2 linked regions of the Homo sapiens genome follow. The protein of the gene in region 1 interacts with the protein of each later gene in a pairwise test. Each region holds a gene or a part of one and is shown on either strand. Other genes may lie near its edges. The genes, in order: SALL1 and DCLK3.

The links.
Region 2: the proteins of SALL1 (region 1) and DCLK3 interact in a two-hybrid assay, tested with the Homo sapiens proteins (one study listed by IntAct).

Annotation. Positions count from the first base shown.
Region 1 is NC_000016.10:51,148,115-51,155,718, forward strand, and holds the start of SALL1 (sal-like protein 1), read right to left. Parts: upstream 3,157-7,604; 5' UTR 3,128-3,156; coding exon 3,052-3,127; intron 2,484-3,051; exon of another isoform or gene 2,267-2,483; intron 1-2,266. UniProt on the Homo sapiens protein: Transcriptional repressor involved in organogenesis. Plays an essential role in ureteric bud invasion during kidney development.
Region 2 is NC_000003.12:36,754,316-36,761,586, reverse strand, and holds part of DCLK3 (serine/threonine-protein kinase DCLK3), read left to right. Parts: intron 1-7,271.

The sequences.
Region 1 (7,604 bases):
CGACCAAATACTCATTTTTGTTTTTGTTTTTGTATTTTGTTTGCATTTGCTTCAGATGAAGCTGTCTGTGTGGCTCCTTAGCATGGTCTGGATTTTCTTTGTAAGCACACACACACTCAAACACACACAGGCAGGACACACAACACCAAGCAGCCCTAGCTGCTTTCAGCTTTGGGAGCTGCTTCTTTAGGGCTCCTGTAACTTAGGTCTACAAACTTTTCTAGGTCTCACTCTGGGTAGAAGTCATACAATCTGAGGTGCTGATAAATGAGAAGTGCATGAACTAGATTTAATTTGGTATGTTTCATATTTCATTTGTCATATTTCAAAGACCATCTCAAGACATAAGAAAAAGTAATCAGAATGTTTGAAAAGGGGCTTGCCTTCTAAAAATATAACAATGTTTCTTTACGTAAAAAACAAAACAAAACAGAAAATCCAGCTACTCCTAGAAGTATGGGTTATATGTGGGGAGAAGAATGAGATTGCTGAACTCACTGCAGAAAAGGTGACTTTTAAAAGGTAACCTTGAGTTATGTCATGAACTTTCAATGCCATTTATTTCAGAACTACTCCCAAATAAAAGAACTGGAGTATGTTAGGCCCTCCTGTATGTCCAGCGTTGGGGGAGGATTACTTGTGTACTAATATTATTACAACACACTAAATCCTGAAACCCTATTACAAAATCTACCCTCTAGGCAACTTCTCCCAAACTTATTGTTCAACCATGTAAAAACAGTCATAACCTAAAACCATTACTACTGAAGAAAAAGAGGAGGGGGTGGGGAGAGGTGAGGAAAGAAGGCTGGGAGGGGGTGTTTCCTAGGGAGCCCCTAACAGTTTACTGCTTCTTTAGGACAATGTACCAGCTTTTGCGAAGAAAAAAGAAAGGAAGGAAGAGAAAGAAATCAAAAGAAGGAGAGAAAAGAGAAAGAAAGGAAACTTGATTGAGTTACTTAACTTACCTCAAAGCTCAAATAAACTAAATTGAAAAAAATAGTACTAATAAAGAATAATGGTAAGAGGTAGTGAACTCCTTTTATATTATTGCTTTATGAGAAGACTTAACTATTAAAAATTCCTGATACTGAAGGCAAAAGGCAAAGATCTTCCACGCATCATTTCTCCTCGAAGGCCGAGACTTTTTTTTTTTAAATGTAGAAAACCAGTACAAATTTACAAAACACACTATATAATGCTCTCTTATCTCTAGTTTGCTTTTTTGTGTACAAACTGTTAACCTGAACAGTTTTCCGGTGCAAAAGGTCTCACCAGAAACTTTAGGAAAGATGAGTGTGACTGCGGGAAGCAGAAGAAACTAAGCTGAGAAAACCCGGAAAAATACTCGGCGCAGCTGCTGCGGCCTTGGGTCATCTCACCTCCATCTACCCCGCGTGCTCGCTTTCGCTTGGGGTGGAAAGCGGGGTTCAGGGGCTCTTTTCAGCGGACTGAGAAATCGCAGAGGCCGTGGGTAAGGATTCAAGCTTGAGGAAACACTGGGGGCCGGGAGGAGGGCTATTGTAAAGCATTTCTTAATTAATTTCAAGTCCTCCATTTTTTTACAGGGACCCCAAGTCAGGATTCCCCTTTCCCGACATCAGGGGTAAAGGGAGCGGGGGTCCCTTCGCTTCACTGTGCCCCAGCTCTACCGAGAGGCAGGCCTCTGGGAAACGAGCCGGGGACCTGGGGGCCCGGGCGGCCGCAGCTTAGTGGGCTGAGGTGCCGATCAGGGTCACGCTTCGGAGCTCTGTCGGGGCCCAGCTCCCTCCTTCACACCCCAAAATGCCGCCTAGGGCGTGGGCATCCCGAGTGGCATCCGGAGCCGCTGAGACCCCGCCGAGATTGCTCCTTGTGCGTCCTCCCACAGCCGAGAGGCCAGCATCGTGCCGGGACGACCCGGGGACCCGAGTCCGGGCGCCGCTACACCGCCTCGGGCGCTAGGCCTGGGAGCTTTGAGGCCGGTACCGTGAAACACCTTTAGGAGCAAGGAGGGATTCCAGGTGTCCTCCCTTTGTACCCCAACTCCCTGCCCGGATCTCTTCCACTCTCTGCCATAGCCCCCACACACAAACTTTGTTCTGGACTTGTTCAGCCCCTTCGGGACCCACAGTTGTCGCCTCCATCGGAGAAAACAAGTGCCCCTGTTTCAGGGGGGATTCCACTCTGGCTGGCCACCCGCAAACCTGGAAAACTATTCTATGACTTCTTCCCTGACCCCCCTGGAAGTAGGGAGCACCACGATCCGCAGAGGGCGCATACCGACCAGAAAGATTTTGGGGGGCAGAGGGTGCAAGTGTTGTGGGAAGAGATGCGGAGATAAATTTTGCGAGCCAGACCCCGACACTTTCCCCGTCCGTTTGCACCGTCTCCGGAACAACTGGCGGCCAGCAGCACTCTCCACCCCGGCCGCAACCCCAGCGGGTCAGGCGCTGGCGCCCCGACACCAGTCCCCATCTTCTTGCAGCTCTGAACCTCCAAAGACACCCGGTTCTGCCTCGCAGGCCGAGGGGGAGTGTGCGTGGGGGCAGGGGGGCGCAGCGAACTCCCCCACGCTCGGAGTTCAGCCCAGCGCCCGAAGTAAACTTCCTTACCGCTGGCAGCAAGGCCGGGCGGCGGAGGCCGGGCCGGGTGCCCTGGGGCCGGCGCCGGGAGCGCTAGGGGCCCCGTGCGGTCAGGCCGGGGCGACCTCCACCCGCACCCACGCCTCATGGGGCTCCCGGGTCTTGGCCGCGGCTGGGATCCCCGGAAAAGCAGGGACGGAGAAGCCAGGCCGGCATGCCCGCCCTCCTTCCCCCGGGAGGACCCAACAACTCCGGAAAGATCCTGCCGGGAGATGTGCTCGCTTTCCCCGGGGCAGCGGGGGAAAGCCCAGCAAAGGCACATTGAAAATTAAAAAGAAAAAAAAAATTACGCCGAGTGGAAGAAGCAATCGGGGCCGCGGCGGCGGTGAGGTAGGGGGCGCGGGGGCCAGCCGCGTGTGAGTGGGTCCGAGTGTGCGTGAGTGTGAGTGCGTGTGTGTGTGTCCACGGCGCGGGCCGGAGCACTCACCATCTCGCCGGGGGAGCGAGGCCACTTCGGGGTCGGATTGGAAATGTTGAGGCTTCGCTTGCTTCCTCCGCGACATGCTGGCTCAAACATCAGCTGGGGCAGAATAAAAAATTACTAAAAAAAAATCTTCTCAAAATTACGGAAATCGAGCGGCGGCGGCGGCGGCGGCTCCCCCCGCCCGCCGGCCCGCCCGCCCCCTCCCCGGCTCCCCGGCCCCGGGCGCAGCGCGCATGTGTCCTGCTATAATTATGATTATCAATAATGCATTGCGATTAATCATAGAGGGGCTCTTTGAAAGGCGATTGGCACCGGGCCAGCGCTATTCAAACCCGCTCGCCTTAATCAATTAGTTCGTGATTTGCTGCAGACCCCTGTCTCTCCGCGCGCTGGCCCAATAAGCCGGCCGCGGGGCTGGCTCTGCGCGCCGCGCCGCCCGACACTGGGTTAACCCTCTTTGCGACCGCCCGGGACTCCGCGGCCCGGCCGCCGGGGGCCGGCCTCCTCTCCACTGCGGGCCCGGCGCCCCGGCAGGCGCCCCCCGCTCTCTCCCTCTCCCCTCCCTCTTCCCTCCCTCCTTCGCCCCCCCCCACAATCCCGGGCTGGGCCGACCCAAATTAGCATGCCCTCCCCGGAATTGAGCCGCCCCGGGTGGGGGGTGGGGCCGGGCGGCGAGGGCTGGGGACCCGGGCTGCCGGCGCGCTGCGAACTTCCCAACTCGGGGGCGAGGCGCGCCGGCCCGCGGGGGGAGGGAGTCCCGCGGCGGGATCAGGGGGGAGGGCGTCCCGTTTCGTGAGTGTTTCTTCGTTTCTTTAAGAGCTACCAGAAAGCAGCCCACCCCCACCCCCATTAAAAAAAAAAATAAGCGAGTGGGGAAGAGCCAGCCCCACGCCGGTCCGCCTCCCGCCCACGGCTCGGCCTCCCTCCCGCCTGGCTCGGCGCTCCTCCGCCCCGAGTTCTCCATCCCCTGGATCCCGGGCTCGCGGGGGCGCGGAGAAGAGGATCCAGGAAAGGTTTGGGAACCTGATGGGTTTGTGGCTGGGGGGAGGGGCAGTTCTCCCGCCACCCCATCCCCTCCCCGCCAGGGGCACTGATCCTCCAGCTTCTTGCTTGCTCCCTCGCTCCCTTTCTCTACCTCGGACATTCCCAGGACAATTAGGGCTGAAGTTTTCGGGAGAAGCAGCCCCGAGCCCGTGGGATAAGGGGGCGGCCCGGCTCCGCCCAGGACCCCTCCCGGACCTCCCCCCCGGCTGCCCCGGTTGGCTGCAGGGCGCGTCACTCCGCGGGGAGGCGGCGGCAGCGGTGGCGCCGCAGAGCCCCGGGCGGGCGGAGAGCGGGGACCGGCCTGGGCTCCGAGTTCAGCTCCGGCCGGGGGGAGGGGAGGGGCTGCGGCTCACACTGAGCGCAGCAGCGAGCACCGGCCTAGGGAGACACAGCCCGGGCGGACCCGGCACTGGACTGGGCCAGTCCCTGGGACCCCTGGGCACCCCGCCCTGGGGAGGGGGCCGCGCCCCAGCCTTCCGGGACGAGGTGGCGGCGCAGAGCCGGAAAGCGGGGTGGGGGGAGGGCGGTGGGGAGGTGTTCTGTCCGAGGCTGCCTGGCGGCGCCGAAGCTCGCCTCCACTTTTTGGGCACTTGCCGAGCGCGGCGCCCGAACTTTTCGCTCTATCACCATCTCCCTCAAGCTGAGATGCAACCTCCCTACCCTCGCCCCAGAGCCCAGAGCCAGGAGCCCGATCCCTCTGCCGGGCTCAGGCGCCCGCGAACCTGAGACTCGGTACGCGGCTCAGCCTAGCTCTTTCCCCTCGCGCCTCGGGGTCTCCTCGCTCCAAGGTTCTCGAAGTCTTGCGCCCGAAGGACTAAACTAAACTAAACTTCGGCTGAGTAATGGGGGAGGAGGGGGGTGCAGATACACAATCCCTGCCCTATCTCACGATCAGGAAAGGAGAGGGCTCATAAGGACGCCCCAATTCGCGAGCGCCCTTGAGTCTGGCCGGTGCCACGGTCGGTTCGCGCGAAGTGGGCACCGGTCTCCCGAGCCGACTTCGTGTACTCCGGACCTGTACTGCGCTCCGGTAGAGGACCCTTCCCTTTCTCTTAGCTTCTTAAATCTTTTCTTTTAAGGTGTAAATGTGTGTGTGTGCCGATGAATGTTTCTGTTTTTCATCTGCTGACTTTATTTTTTTTTATTGGTATAACTTCTCCCTTCTCTCTCCCTGCTCGTCCGTTTTCCACCTTTTCTCTTACTTATCTTCTGCCCTCGCTCACTCCCTAACACACACATTCACACCCTCTCCGCCTCGCTCTCCCGTTCTCGCCAGGTCCTGATGGGTACAGTAGATTTTGATAAAAAGACAAACGAAGCTATCAGTGGGGCTGATGTTGAAGAATGAAGATAATAATGTTTCCATAGGTGGTGCTTCAAATGCCATTATTTCTCACTGAATATTTAAAGAGATCCCTCGGCAAAGATGGATCTGCGCACTCCTGGGGTGTGAGCGGCTCGCATCTCCCAGACCCCGGGGAACGTGTACGGGAGCACGTGTAAATCCCGCACCCGCCTCCATCTCACAAACAGGGGTCCTCGCACACCCACCAATCCACACTGTCCCAGGTACACGAACGCGTTTGTGTGCACTTGCACACTCCTTTCCCGGAATGTGCCCGTGTTTGGAGCCGCCCGCATCCTTCTCTAACAATCTTGGCTTCTTGAAAGTCCGGGCCTCCCGGGCACCGCATGCAGCCAGGAACCTAGCGGAGCTGGCGGTCCCGCAAAGCTTTTCTCCTGGTGCGCGCCGCGTGCGCAGCAGGAAGCTCCCGGGAATAACTTCACACGTGTTTGTTACTTGGTCTACGTGTGATTTAAGATTAAGTGTAGGAAAAAAAAAAATTCCCCCCCCCCAAAAAAACACCACAACAAACAACCAAACGAAATGAACATGCGAAAAGCAGCTACGCGATGCTTAATTAAAAATGGGCGAGCAGAGACGAATAAATTGGGGGATCCAAACTTTAATAACTTTTTTCGTTTTTTTGCGTCCTCGACGGCGTAGAGGCGGGCGTTTCGATCTGCGCTTGGCGTCCCCCGCTAATTTCTTGTTTGTTTTCTTTCCCTCGGTGGCCCCGGGAAAGGAGATGGGAGGTGGAGGAGGGGGGGATGGGAGGAGGGGGATGGTCGGAATGGCGGGGAGAGGAGAATTGGTCTTTATTGTTGATGGCAATACATCAATTACGGGCCATTGTCTCGGTCCCAAGTTCCGTGGTTCGCTGGTGCGGGCGCTGCAGTGTCAGGGCGCTGGCGAGGCTCCGCGTGCCGCGATGCAAAGAAATACATCAATAAAAACAGAAGCAGAGTGGGGGTTATTCTTTATTTTTGTGCGGGTCGAAAGTAGGCGGCGAGCGGGAGTGAGGTGCCACTCCTGGAGTCCCTCCACGCGCCCTGCTCACCCCAGAGACCTGCGCGCTCTACGTGCGGTAGCACCCTCCTAACTCTGGGTGGAGGTGGGGTGGGGGGGGGACTACTGGGGAATCCGGGTAGCGAAGTTTGGACTTGCAGGTTCCGCCAGAGGGCCTGGTACTTAGGGGCTGATCCGCAATAGCGAATGGGGATAGCCCGAAGTGAGGCGGCAGCTGCGCCGGGGTCGCGACCTCACTGGCGGAGAGGAACCGCACCCGGGGGAGGCGCTTGGCGAGTTTTGCAAACTCCCATCTTGGGGGATTGATGCTCGTTCCTACTAATACGTCCCCTTAGTTTTCCCAAGTCCTAGAGTATCCTTGGTGGGTTGGCGGGGCCGAAGGTCTGTGCCCCAAGGCCGCAGGCCACAACTGGGGTCCCAGCCATGAGGTTTCCAGGCTTCTTTGCTCAACCTCTGGTCCTACGAAGGGCAACGTGGGGGGCGTCAAGGCTCGCGCATTCTGAGGCCTGGTTCTTCTACCCTCAAAAGTATCTTATTCTGGCCCGATCTGACCTCGGGTCTGGGATGGGGCCTGGGATGAGGCCTTGCCTGGGCCCCAGACCCTCTTTTCCGTTCCGTTGACGGTGCTTGGCCACCCTACCCCAGAAATGGAGGACGTCTCCAAGTGCTCTCCCTGCACCCCTGTTTCCTCAGTCCCCAGCTCAAGGCCCCGCTGGCCCCCGGCCGAGGCTAGAAGGGCAGTAGTGGAGGTTTCGTTTTCTTAAGCAAGGCAAAAAGCGGCGAAAAGGCGGCAGCGGCGCCCCGGGGGCGGGGGACGAGGCACATCGATGGTATCAACATTATTGATGGGGAAAAGTTCGGGGCAGGAGCCCGGAGATCAGGTTCCCAGTCCCTCCCCTGCCCGGAGGTGGGTGGGACAGAGCGGGTGGCCAGCTGTGTGTGTGTGTGCATGTGTGTGTGTTGGTGGGGGGGTGTTCCTGAATGCACCCGCATTAACCACCTGGGGTTTATTTGTATTTTCCTTGTCTGAAAGTTTGCGGGGGCAGAGGGAAAAGGAAGGGTTGAGGTGGCTTGTACCCTCTAGCCCTTAGGGCTCTTAACTAGGGTTGGGGTTGGGGTTGGAGTTAGGGTTGGGGGAGGG
Region 2 (7,271 bases), on another chromosome or scaffold:
TTTGCCCGTCTGCTGGTGGAGCAGAGCCCCTTTTGAAGATGCATACGTGGGGGAGTTCTTTGAAAAGAATGTTTTTGTTAACTGCTTGGTAATGTAGGTCAGAAGAGAGAAATCTAGGGAAAGTGAAAGAGTGGGAAGAAGACATCTGTACTGGGAATTGGGGAGGGGAGTTTGGCTCCATCCTCAGAGTTCTGAAGCCTCCTGGTGACCTGGGGCAAGTCACTGAACTTCTCTAGGAACCTCAGTATCTTCACCATTCATTTAATAGCAATTGTTCAGCCAGCCTCAGAGTGTTCTTTGATGGTCAAAGGGGAAATATTTTCATGGACTCATCCAGTGATTATAGGGGAAGCCCATAAAATCTTTATACAGAGACAACTGGCAATCTCTTGGGGACAGTGGTGTATGTAGAGGCATCATGATGTGGATAGCAAGTGGTAGAATAGAGATAATCACCAGATCAGTGGCTGCATGAAGGGACAGGGAAGTCTCCAGAGCTGCTTGGGCTGGTTTTGAAGGCTAAATGTTGACAGAATTTGCAAAGGGCAGGGTGTCATGTAGTGTGTAGTTATGGAGGTGAGTCCATCAGAATTGCTTTCACATTTGGGCTCTGGCCCCTCAAACCCATGTGATCCTGAGCGAGATACCCAACTACTCTGAGCCTCGGTTTCCTTATTGGTAAAATGGGCATATTCAAATTGCTCTGAGGATTTAGTGATGTAAAGCAATTACCAGATATTATTACAAATGAAAAGTATTGTTATTAAAGTTACCTTTTAGCTGAATGGATTCTGTTTGGCTGCCTGGGGCCAGTACTTTTTGAATATTGCTGGACATATGAATCATCTGGGGATCTTATTAAAATATAGATTCTGATTCAGGAGGTCTAGGGTGGGGCCTAAGATTCTGCTTTTCTCCCTAGCTCCTAAGTTCTGTAGATGTTGTTTCTTTCTTTTTTTAATTATACTTTAAGTTTTAGGGTACATGTGCACAACATGCAGGTTAGTTACATATGTATACATGTGCCATGTTGGTGTGCTGCACCCATTAACTCGTTATTTAACATTAGGTATATCTCCTAATGCTATCCCTCCCCCCTCCCCCAACCCCACAACAGGTCCCGGTGTGTGATGTTCCCCTTCCTGTGTCCATGTATTCTCATTGTTCAATTCCCACCTATGAGTGAGAAAATGCGGTGTTTGGTTTTTTGTCCTTGCGATAGTTTGCTGAGAATGAAAATGTGGCACATATACACCATGGAATACTATGTAGATGTTGTTTCTTTAGGGACCACATTTTGAGTACAAGGCCCTAGGCTACTCCCTCTTGGGTAAAGCCTGAGTCCTTTGTGGGACCTGAAGAGCACTGTGTTTGGAGAGATGATGGGGAGGGTTCAGGCCTCCTAGGCAGGTCTGGCCTGGAGCTGGGGTAGAGAGAGCTAGGAATTGCTGCTGTTGAGTAGGATGTTCCTACTGGGTAGATAATGGATCAAACCCAGCTTCCTTCAAATGCCCTAGGACCAGCCTCCTGGAGGAAATTCTTCCTGGCCAAATGGCCAAATACTGCCTGCTCTTGCATGCTGGCCCTGAGGATGTAGAGATGAATAAGCCATTGGCCCATCACTGCCCCTGCCACAGTGTGATTGCGGGGAGTGGGTGAGGAGGTGTGAGACATAGAAATGTACGATTATGATATGGTGAGATGAGCACTCTGTGGCGTTAGGGTAATGGAGAGGCAGGTAAGAGAGTTAAGAAAGGGAGGAACCCTTCCTGGTGGTAATTAAATCTGAACTGGGTTTTGATGGATAAATCACTGTGTCTGGGATTGGAGGAGGGCAGAAGAGTGTGTGGAATAGTATTCTAAGACTGAGGAACAGCATGTGCAAAAGTAGGCTGCCATGATGAAACAGCTTGGTGTGTTCAGGTCACTGAACTAAGAGTTGTTTGGAGCATGGAGTGTGATGGGGAGGACTTGATCAGGGAGCAGAGCTCAGTTCATGAAGTGTATTAGTCAGGAGGGTTTTCTAAGCTTTGCTGCAGTAACAAATCAACTTCATCATCTTGGTAGTTTAACTCAACGAAGGTTACTTCTCACACACAATGTGTGTCCCTCACAGGTCAATTGATAGCCAAGTAGACAGAGCTTCTCCCAGTTTTCAGCCTTGCCATCTGGAAAATGTGGCCACTGTAGTCACCAGTGCAGGAAGAGATAGAGGGAGAGTGTCTCTCTGGCTCGTCTGGAATGAATGCAATGTTGCTTTTGTCCACAGCCCATTGGTCAGAACTAATTGTGGGCGCAGGGGGCTGGGAAATAGGGGATGGCGGCTGGGATGGAAGAAAAAGTCAGAGAATATCAACTCTCCCACATATGTCTTGTTATGAAGCTTAAGCCTCATTCTGAGGCCACAGTTTCTCAAATAAGAGTAATATGGGAATTCCTTTAAAGGAAAAAAATTCTTGTAGATTCCTAGTGTTGCTTAAATTATTTTTATTATAGTGCAGTTCAGATATGTAGTAGTTTTACATGGGTCTAAACTCTTTATACTTAGAGCTTTCATATGACCACATAACCAAAACAAATATATAAATAAAATATCAACACAGCTACAAGTCAAATACATTTGGATTAACCTCATGAATTTAATGTTCTGGATGAAGTTATTTTTGCTAAAATGAAATCCCTATTTCTGGTTATAACAGCTGTTGTTCAGGTTCTTATGAATTTGGTGTGCAGTGTGCCATGCCACAAGGTTTTATGATGGCTCAATTTTCTCATCAGTTTCCTTTCTATACACTAAACCTGATTTGTTATTTTCTCATTGGCCTGTGATAATTAAAATAATGTTTCTTGATGCCAACTGTCTCAGTCTGTTTGTGCTGCCATAGGAAAACACCTGAGCCTGGGTAATTTGTAAAGAACAGAGATTCTTTCCCAACAGTTCTGGAGACTGGCAGGCCATGATTAGGGCACCTGCAAGCTTAATGTGTGGTGAAGGCTTATTCTCTGCTTGTTGCTACACACTCCAAAGGGGATGGACCTTGTGTCTTCACACAGTGGAAGGAACAGGAACCAACAAAGGGCCTAAGCTATTTCTTTTCAGCCCTTTTGTCAGTCACTCATCCATTCTTTAAGGTAGAGCCCTCGTGACTTAATCACTTCCCCAAAGCCCCCACCCTTCAATATCACCACAATGGGGACTAAGTTTTAACATATGAATTTTCCGGGATATTCAGACCATAGCATCAACTACAGTATAAATGCAAGAGTATATATGGTGAAATTATGTGGTAGCACTTAGTCATAACATGGCCATTCAGATGATCCAGAATATGTTTCTATTGATTCTTAAAAAAAGGTGATCATGAAAGTGAAAACAGAAAGTTAAACAAAACACAATTTTGAGAACTCATGGACCCTCCTAAGATAGGTTTGAGGATCTCCTGGAATTTGAGAAACAGCTGGAAAACTACTGGAGTGTTTAATGAAGGGGACATAGATGACCAGCTTTATGGTTCAGAGACATCACTTTTCCCAGGGTGTATGGGGTGGCTGAGGGGGAGAGAGGAAGGCTGAGACAGCAGAATCTGGGGAGGCTTGCAGGTAGCTGAGCTAAGATGTGATGAGGGCAGGTGCTCAGATGTAGTTAAGGTAATGGGAGAGAGGAAGCATGGATTTGAGAGACACGCAGGAGCTGGAATCCACAGGACTTTGAGGTTGACTGCGATGTGGGAGGGGATGGAAGGGAAGAGGAGTCAGGGATGACTCTTGGTCTTGGAGGTCGAGGGTGGTTGGTGGTACCACCGACCAGGATGAGGACCGCAGGTGTCAGATGTCCATGGCAAGAACAGAAGAGCTCAAGACCAGAACTGTGTTCTGCCGTATTCACCATCCCATCTTTTCTCACTGATGTGACTTTTCCTGAACCAGTTTCTGAGAAACTGCTACATCTTGCAGTGTCTATTTTTCTTCTATGGGACATTAATTAGTGCTCATTAAGATGATTTGAATGGCTTTATTAGCTTTTCTATTGTGCTTGCTGCTTCTGTCCTGTAGGAGCAGATTCTGGCAATATTACCTGATTAAGCACATACTTTTTTTTTGTTTTCTGTATGTTCAAAGGAGGTGAAAAAAATTGAGAAAATTGTGGATGGTTCTGAGCTAGAAGCTGTCATGCCATATAATGTGAGATTAGTTTTCTGCCTTCAGTTTTTATTTTAAGAGCACAAACGATCAACTTTCCACTCTGTGTTTTTGGATGGAGATACTGAAAATTCTTTGAGGAATGAGTAGAGGTTAAATGATCTCTAGGTAATTACATAAGAAGTAAAATGGAAACACTGCACTTTGGGGAAGTGGAGGGCAGAGAACACAAAGCCACACAAACAGACAAAAATTTCACAAACCGAAAATAAACCCCTGTGGTTTCTAGAGTAAAATCTCATGTTAATTAAAATTTTGGCATTACATATTTTAAAATGTAACTTGGTATTTACTTTTTGTATAAATAATTAACCTAATGCACCAACTGATGGAGGGAAGCAACATGAGCAGATTGCCAGAAGTGGCTTTTACTTTCCTGTTCCCACTTGAGAAACTTATGCTCTCTCCTGGTCTCAGGCATTGTTTTCATAGCAGAGCCTCTGAGGCCCTCCAGGGAGATGTGTAGCCTCCCCTGGAGGGCCTCTGAGTCTATCTGGAACTTGTGATAAAGGTTCTGTGAGCGAAGGCATACCTGTCACCCCCAGACACCACATGCCACTTGAGGATGGCACCATGTTTTTTCATCCCAGAATCCCCCCAGACTAGCAGGGCATTTCCCCTAACAGCAGTTTCCATACCCACAAGCTAGTCCAAGGCACCCTACAGGAAGTATCTTTGGGTCTCAGGGTTGGTTGGAGCAGCAGATTTCCTAGCAATAACAGCCATAACTTTTTGGGAATGTCTCTTCCAGGAATGGGTTAGACAAGGCTGGTTATTCATTTTAGTTCAGATGTTGTTTCGGTTTCAGAGGGCTACAACCAAAGTCCCCTGGAGCTTGGGTCTCTCCATTTGTGCCAGAGGCAGTGGTTCTTGCCAGATAACCCATGTGCTCCCCTTCTTTAGCAGATGCTATCAGTCCCTGTCCATGGTCCCTGAGCACACATCTTTCCTGTTCTGGTGGTTCCCACTGCAAGCCACTGCAACACTGTTGGATGACTTTCTTTGGTTGCAGGGGCATGGTTGGCCCCCATCTGGTGCACACACCCAGAAGTGCTGGGCAGCTAATGTCCTGGGAGCAGCCCTCAACCACCAATGGAAGGGAATGGATGGGTGAATATCACAGTTTCCTTGCCCCTCTGGAAGGATAACTCTGAGGCATGTTCTACTCAATCTCTCCAGAGGTTCCCAGCAGAACTGAGCCCAGGTTGGCCATAGCAGTAACCTACTCTTTCATGCCACTGTCCTACTTCACTTTTCCACTCTCCTCTAGTGCTGTCTGAGATCACCTCCCAAATCAACCCATATCCTTGCCCTAGGCTGTGCTTTTGAGAGAGACCAACCCAGGAATCTTTTGGGGTGGTTGGGGTTATGTGACCAGCTCTGGCCACTGGACTGTAGGTGGAAGTGCCATGTGTCACTTCTCATTCCAGGCAGTTGAAAGCCAGGATACCACTATTGTCTTTCTCGTCTGCTGCTGGGGCCACCTTGGAGGCCATGTGCTTTGAATGGAGGATCAGAGATGGAGAAAGCTGCTAGGTTTACACTGGGATTCATACAAGCAAGAGTCTTTTATTGTGGTAGCCCTAGAGCTTTTTGATATTTATCAGTTGGGGCACCTATCTATCTGATAAACAGTGTCACACTGTCGTTTTTTGGGTGCCACCACTGATGTCAGCCCATCCTCCACTTCTCCATCCTACACTGGTCCATAAGAACTCTTGGGATCTGCTACCCATGACCTCCTTTAATGCTTCTCATTTCCAAACTCCCCTCCTCTTCAGTAGTTTGATTAATATTAAAGTAAAATTTATGTTTCTCTATGGTTTTTAATTCATCTGGAAGTTATTTTGTTATTATTTGTAAAATAAGAATCTAAATTCATTTTATTTCCAAATTATTAACCAGTTGTTCCAATATTGAATAAGAATCATTCTAACCTTCCTGGCTAGTTTGTAATCACCTTTCATTATACGTTAAATTCTCATATAAAGTAGTATCTATTTTGGAACTATAGTTTTTTTTCTTAAATTCTTGTGCAAGTACCAAGACATTGTAATTGTAGCTCTGTAATATATTTTACTATCTTCATTACTCACTACTCATCTCCTTCCTGTCCTCCCTCAAAAATTGTATTAGTGTTTCAGTTGCACAAAACCTACAAATTACAAATGGGAAGAACTGATATGTCTATTAGGCTTTTACATTCTGGAATGGACAGTCATTTAAACGGCTTTTCTAATTCCTCTCACAGTTTTGTAGTTTTCCTTATGTTGCTCATACACATTTTTTGTTAGTTATTCCTAGCAATTTTCTATATGTTGACATATAAATGTATAAATTTTTTCATGTGTTTTTCAATTTATTGCAGTTATGTCAAAAGCTTGTATGTACATATAAGCTTCACTATACATATAGAAAATTCATAGATAGTTAATATATGTAATTAATGATTTTTTTTGCCTTATAGCTGACTACTTTCTAATTATATTTGGAAGTAAAAACATATAAAAACTATTTCATGAGAGTCCATGTACTCTAATTGCCTTTCCAGGTGGCTCAGAACAAACACATAGGTATGTCCTAGAATTGAAATAAGTTCATGGAGACAGGGAAAGATGGAGAGAAAAGATACATGAAGGAGTTGGCTATGTGGTAGCAATCATAGGTTTTCTCCATCACAGAACATGTGCAGAGTTACAGGAGCCATGAAAACAAATAGCTTGGGTTCATTGTGGGTTTTCTCTTTGAGATATAATCTCTCACACATTTAAAACTTACCTGTAAGTGTCTCTGACTGGTCCTAGACACTACTAGCACCAAATCAAAGTCTTCTCCTAGATGATTGAAACTTGTCAGTAATAATGTGTTTACGTTTTCGGTCTGGATAAGAAAAGATGATGTCAGAGGATGCCACCTCTTCAGTAATGTTAAAGACAGGCCTGGCAGGTCAGACTGTTTAATGTAAAATAAAAGGTGACTACGTCCCTAACAGGGGTCTTACCTTGTGTTCAAGTTAAGAAAACCAAAATCAGTGGGCTTATTAATTTAAAAAGAAAAGAGAAACAGAAAGA